2 separate regions of the Homo sapiens genome follow, and region 2 is linked to region 1. A link means that fine-mapping ties the variant in region 1 to the plasma level of a protein whose gene starts in the linked region. Region 1 holds a variant in brackets. A gene starts in the other region. All regions are shown on their reverse strands.

Region 1 (2,500 bases):
TCCCCTAACGGAAAGGCCAGGCTCCGCGTGGACGGCCAACTCCCTGCCCGCTCCTTCAGCAGGTGACTGTCTCTGCCACTTCTTACCTGCTGAAGGATCTTGCTCAGTAGCTGGAACAATGCTGCTGTCACACAGTCTCTTCTCTGAAACTTCAGGATGCTCCTTGGTCACCAGGCAATGGGAGCTGTAGACCAGCCGCATGCACTTGCCCCACATTCACTGCTGACTGGCTTCACTGGAATAGGTTCAGGTCACCGGGACTTCTCTCAGAGTCAGCGGCCCACCCAACTCCCTCATACCGTCGCATCTGAAAATTTTCAGAGAGGAATTCTCTTTGTAGTCGGCTTGTCAGGGTTTTCAAGTTTTTCTATGGTTATTTTTAAATCTCTTTTTTTAAATGCTAAAATTAATGTCCTCATTAATGCAAGTAATTTTAGAGCACAGTGTAGCCATGTACAGTTTCCATTATTTAAAATAAATAAATGTGTTGGTTCATTTGGTGTATGGGGGGACATCATGGTAACTGGAAATGAAAGTTTAATCTTTCACAAATGTGCTTGATAAAGCTGTTAAGAATTGTCTTTCCTAAGTATGTTAACTGTTGTATCTAACTCAACTGTGAGCTAAGTTTAAAAACTGCAATCATGAATGTTTGTGATATTTTAAATATCTACTACAGCACATTCAGCCAATAAAGAATCTGCCTTTAATGTAAGTTGTAATTTACTTGACATTTTTCCCTAAGTGTCTTTATTTCAACATTTTCATATTTCTACTGTTAACACCCAAAATACTTACATTCTGGTTAACCCTGTATTGGTAAACACATTGTCAGAAACCATCTGTCAGGTCCTGCTAATTCTGTTTGCTGGGGACTTACCATGTGCGAGGCACACCATGAAGTGCCTCGTTGAATCCTCACAACAGCCTTATGATACATGTGGGCTAGCTTACCGCCACGTCCATTTAGCAGAGGAAGGAATCAGGGCTTAGAGAGAGGTTGGTGACTTCCGTAAGACTGCAAGGCAGTAAGTAGCAGGACTCATGTTCACACTCTGGCTCTGTATGTCCTTGACTTCACTACTGCTCAGCTCTTCCTTCCAGCGGAATATGCTTTCTGACATCCATCCACCTGGGTCACAGCTCAGAGAAAGTTCATCAATTCCAGAGGCTAATAAACAGTAGCAACACGGAAACCGGTAGTGCTTTTATGGCTCAGAGTGGAAGGTAAAGGCCTAAAAACCCCATACCCAAGTGAGGGAGTTCAAGGACTACTATTCCAACAAGTCAGGGGGGACTTCTTGGAAGAAAGGGGGATTTCAAGAGCTACTTGAGTTACAGAACCCTGGTTTAGTGGGTAAGAGGAGATGAATATGAAATAAGTTAGATGAAAGCCGAGAGAGAAACCAG[G/C]ACCTGGAGCAAGTTAACGAGGCAGCTGAGAAAACAAATTAGGGAGGTTCAAGGTACTTCAGTGCTCCAGTGGCATTTCATTTCCAGCACACCCATGTTCTTTGTGGGTCACAGCATGGCTTCATGTGAGTTAGCTGAGCTGGCCTCACTTGAATGGGAAAGAGCTATTAGAAATCACTTGGTTTTTTACTAAGACTTTCTTTATCAGTGTACCATGAAAGAGCATATTCTAGAAATGATTTGGGCATTGCAAAACAAGCATCATTGCCTTAGGCTGAGCACACTGACTCATTCTCCTGTCTCTTGTCATCTTTGCATGTAGATTTTTTTAAAGGGAAGAAATAGAAGAGATTATATTTTTATTCTGGATTTGGTACAAGGTGGTGGTGTGTATTTCTGTTTTGATCACGTGCTATGGGATATTCTGTTAGTTTCATAAGCGTGTTGTGTAATGTTTTCAGAAAAGTTACAAATTTTAACTAGTTTTTAAATCAAGATTAGGTTTCTAAAAGTCAAATATATTTTATGTAATATTCATAAAATAATTATGCATAGACTAAACTTGCATACATTTTTGTCACTGAACATTTATCTGTTGGTTCTGTTGCAAAGATTTTCATATAGATCTGTGAACTGCTCTGAAAGATATATTTAATATATCACTCCTCAATTAGAGCAGCAGCCATAATTATTTTAGCTTTGCTTTAAACACAGTTGCATATTACTCTATACTAGGGCCATTATGCTTTTTGTGTGCTGATCTCATCTCATTTCTGCTCCCCCAGAGGAGGATTTATTACATTGAGGTTTATTACGTGTATTACTGGAAAGCCTTTCTGTACCTGGCCAGGTTAGAAATATATAGCAATAAACATCTTACGGACAAGACCTGGGTCTTTGGGTAACTTGTTTGCAGTTTGGCTAATGAAAGGCAGTAGGATATCAGAGTGTCTTTCTCCTGTCTAGGCACAGAAAATCCTAGACAAAGTGGGCAGTGAAGCTTGTCTTGTGCCTTCAACAGTGTTTTACCATGACTGGAAGCCGTTGGTTTTCTTCTTGTGGTCACTGTTGATATTTTCATGGTTGTTAT
Region 2 (3,036 bases), not on the chromosome of region 1:
AATAAGTAATGCTGTTTCACTTGTCTGCATATGCATAGCAAAATCTTTTCCTATTCTGATTCTCCACTTAACTCATCCTAAACCCCTGCTCAAGTATCATCATTGCTGTGAAGTCTTCTCTGATTAGCTCCAAACATAGTAACCATTTCCTCCAAGGTTTCATTTCTTTTTCTTATTTTAGAGATGTGATCTCACTCTGTCACTCAGGCTGAGGTTCAGTGGCCTGATCATAGTTCACTGCAGCCTCAAACTCCTGGGCTCAAGCTATCCTCCCAGTTCGGCCTCCCAAAGTGCTGGGATTACAGATATGAGCCACCTCGCCTGGCCTCCAAAGTTTGTTATACTTTTCTCTCTTAACAGTGGTTTCCACATGTTATTGCAATTACTAGACCATATATTTTTACAGTGCAAAACTATCCCTTGTTCCTTCATGTACTGCCTCCACCCATCACATTGCCTGGCATTCATGAGTGCTAAAAACTTTTCATTGAATACAATACTAAGTAAATGAAGAAATGTGGGATTAAAAATGAATGCCTACAATGAACCAAGCTTTCTGCTGAGTTACCTGAATATTACAAAGAAGCAAAAATTATTACTGTAGAGGAACAATTACCCTGCTTGGAATGCAGAGATTATGTCAGCATACAAAATTGATTGCTTGATCAATCTGGAGTAGAATAGCTCATGAAGCATAGCTATACTTAATAATATAGCAAAGCAGAGGGGCCTGAGAGGGTCTTACTGCTTAATCTCTGTCCATCATGTCTTAGACCTACAGACAACTTGAGTTCAATGATTATGATGCCCCTCACCTCAGGGATCTGTTTCCATCCAGCTTCCAAAGATGGGCATACACCAGCACAAGCATAGAAAAATAACAAATCTGTATATTGGACCCTCTGCTTAGCAGTGAGAAAGCAGGTTTGAAGACAATAAAGCCAGGCCTGTATGTGGAGATTGGCACCATGACCCTGGATTATGTTTTATGGGATATGCCTCCAAGGGCAACTCTGCATTTATCCCATGGCCTCTGGCTTCCAAATTTTCTAGGCACTTCCCTCTGGGGTAAAGGAATCAAAATTGGCTTATTTCCCTTGCAAACCATCCTTGGCGACTAAGTACTGCCTTGTCTTCTACTGAGAGATGGCCATATTTTTGGCACCTGCCTTTCCTTGTGGGAGGTGTTTCCTCTGTTTACATAGCAAAGGGGCTGTAGGAGAGACAGACGGAGCTGGACTTACAGCAGAACCAAGTCATGATAGCCTGTTTCTATTTTGTTTTCAGCATTTTTCCGCCAGTTCTGGCCACCTCCTTTCCTCTGGAACATGCTGATTTCAGCAAGTCCAGCTCTGTCAGCTCTGCCCCCCGAGTCTATTGGTTTCTGATCATCTGATAATGCTTTGCCTGCACTCAGGACCTGTCTTTGTCCCTCCTCTTAACATACTTGCAGCTAAAACTAAATATTGCTGCTTGGGGACCTCCTTCTAGCCTTAAATTTCAGCTCATCACCTTCACCTGCCTTGGTCATGGCTCTGCTATTCTCCTTGATCCTTGGTGAGTATCTCTGCACCTGTTGGTTTAGGCTTCAGAGTTTTCTGGCACTTTGATTAGGAGAACTTTCTCCCCGCCAACCTGGAACAGATTTAGATGTTTTTCAAGGATGAGCTTCTTCCTCCTTTTTACATTTGGTAACTATTCTAATCCTTAAAAAGCCGCTTAATCCATACACATTTGTAATTCACTTTAACAGATTTTTTTCTATTTTCTTATATTTGTAATGACAGAGTCATGATAGTTTATCCCATTTCTCTTTTTACATAAGTGTTCCTAAATGTACTATTAGTAAGAAGACAAATGAATGGGCACCGGGCAGCAGCAAGTAGAGCCAGGAAAGGAAGTAGAACTGCAAGACAATCACCTTTCATTGATCATATTGTCTGGTTTCCTCTGAAAAGTGTTTCATATAATGTTTTTCTAGTTTTCTTCAGTTTCTCATTGCTTAGAGTAATCTAGAGATTAACCTAGTTAATCTGGTGATTGTGGAGCCAAGGAGACCTGGATTTCAATCCTGCCGTTTTGATTTCTTAGCGGTGTGAATTCGTAGGTTACCATACCTCTCTGAAATTTTGCTCTCTCATCTATGAAGTGAGGATAATATTATGTTCCTCAGAGGTTTTTAGGAGTATTTTTTTTTATAAGATAACTAATATAAAGCATCTAACAATGCCTGGTAAATCCCTATGCTAATCAATCACATCCACTTTTATGTCTTGATGATCTAGTACATCACCAAAGCCCACACAATCCTCTCAACTGGACACTTTTGTGTTCAATGTAAGGTACTGACCACATCTTAAACATCCATGCATCCCCCACATCACTCAACGGCTAGTCCTGCCCCTCATGGATATACTACTGGGTCTTCCAGGCTCATGTGCACTTCCACCTGCTTCATGAAGCCTTTCTGGCCTGTGCCTTCTGCAGTTACCCACCCTACTGCAGAGCTTCCAAGTCACTTACTGGCTATATCACGTTTGCACCTGCATATCAGGCTTGCCATGCTCACTTTCCTTCACATGTACACATGTTGGGTTGGGGTTATGCAATGATTCCCATATGTATAATATAACCTTGAGTTTTGGATAGTTGCAGAAAAGGCCTCATTGAGCCTGAGAGTGGCCACATTCTGAAGATTAAGGGAATGAGGGTAATGAGAGGTTATTTGGAAACCAAGAAAAGAAAATATTCCAGGATAAACCACTGAACTACTTGAATCTGCCTGAAAAACTGTAGGCTGGAGGTCCAAAGATATTTGCACCTTCTGAAAAATCCTATAAGATGGGGGTGGTGGGTGTTTTGCAGTTGAAAATGCATAGGCCTCAGGGACTCCTGGAGGTTACAGGGCCCAGGACTCTCTACAGCATTAGGAGGGACCTTATGGAGAAAGGAGTCCAAATATACAGAGATCCTGCAGGAAGAAACCCCCATGTTTTAAAGACAGGCTGGTGCTGGAATCTGGAGGTTTGGAACTAC

Which allele goes with the higher level. Positions count from the first base shown, and alleles are read on the strand shown. Strength reflects both the effect of a copy and how common the allele is.
With allele C in place of G in region 1, the plasma level of the protein whose gene starts at base 1,423 in region 2 is higher (weak association).

What was found. A credible set is the group of variants that fine-mapping cannot tell apart. PIP is the posterior inclusion probability: the model's chance that the variant is causal. The UK Biobank Pharma Proteomics Project read protein levels with antibody pairs (Olink). The fine-mapping took linkage between variants from a reference panel, not from the people measured, so its PIPs are less certain.
Region 2: it holds the start of CD5L, and the variant in region 1 is the best candidate, but not a certain one, in a credible set for the plasma level of the CD5L protein (UK Biobank, PIP 0.67).

Annotation. Positions count from the first base shown.
Region 1 is chr6:483,364-485,863 of GRCh38, reverse strand. It overlaps EXOC2 (exocyst complex component 2), which reads left to right. Exons shown (of 28, transcript NM_018303.6): 28 at 1-710. Among named protein-coding and RNA genes, the nearest start is that of IRF4, 93 kb to the right of the region's middle. The variant G/C (reference allele first, on the strand shown) is at 1,411.
Region 2 is chr1:157,840,195-157,843,230 of GRCh38, reverse strand. CD5L (CD5 molecule like) reads left to right here and starts at 1,423. Exons shown (of 6, transcript NM_005894.3): 1 at 1,423-1,557. The coding sequence starts at 1,530.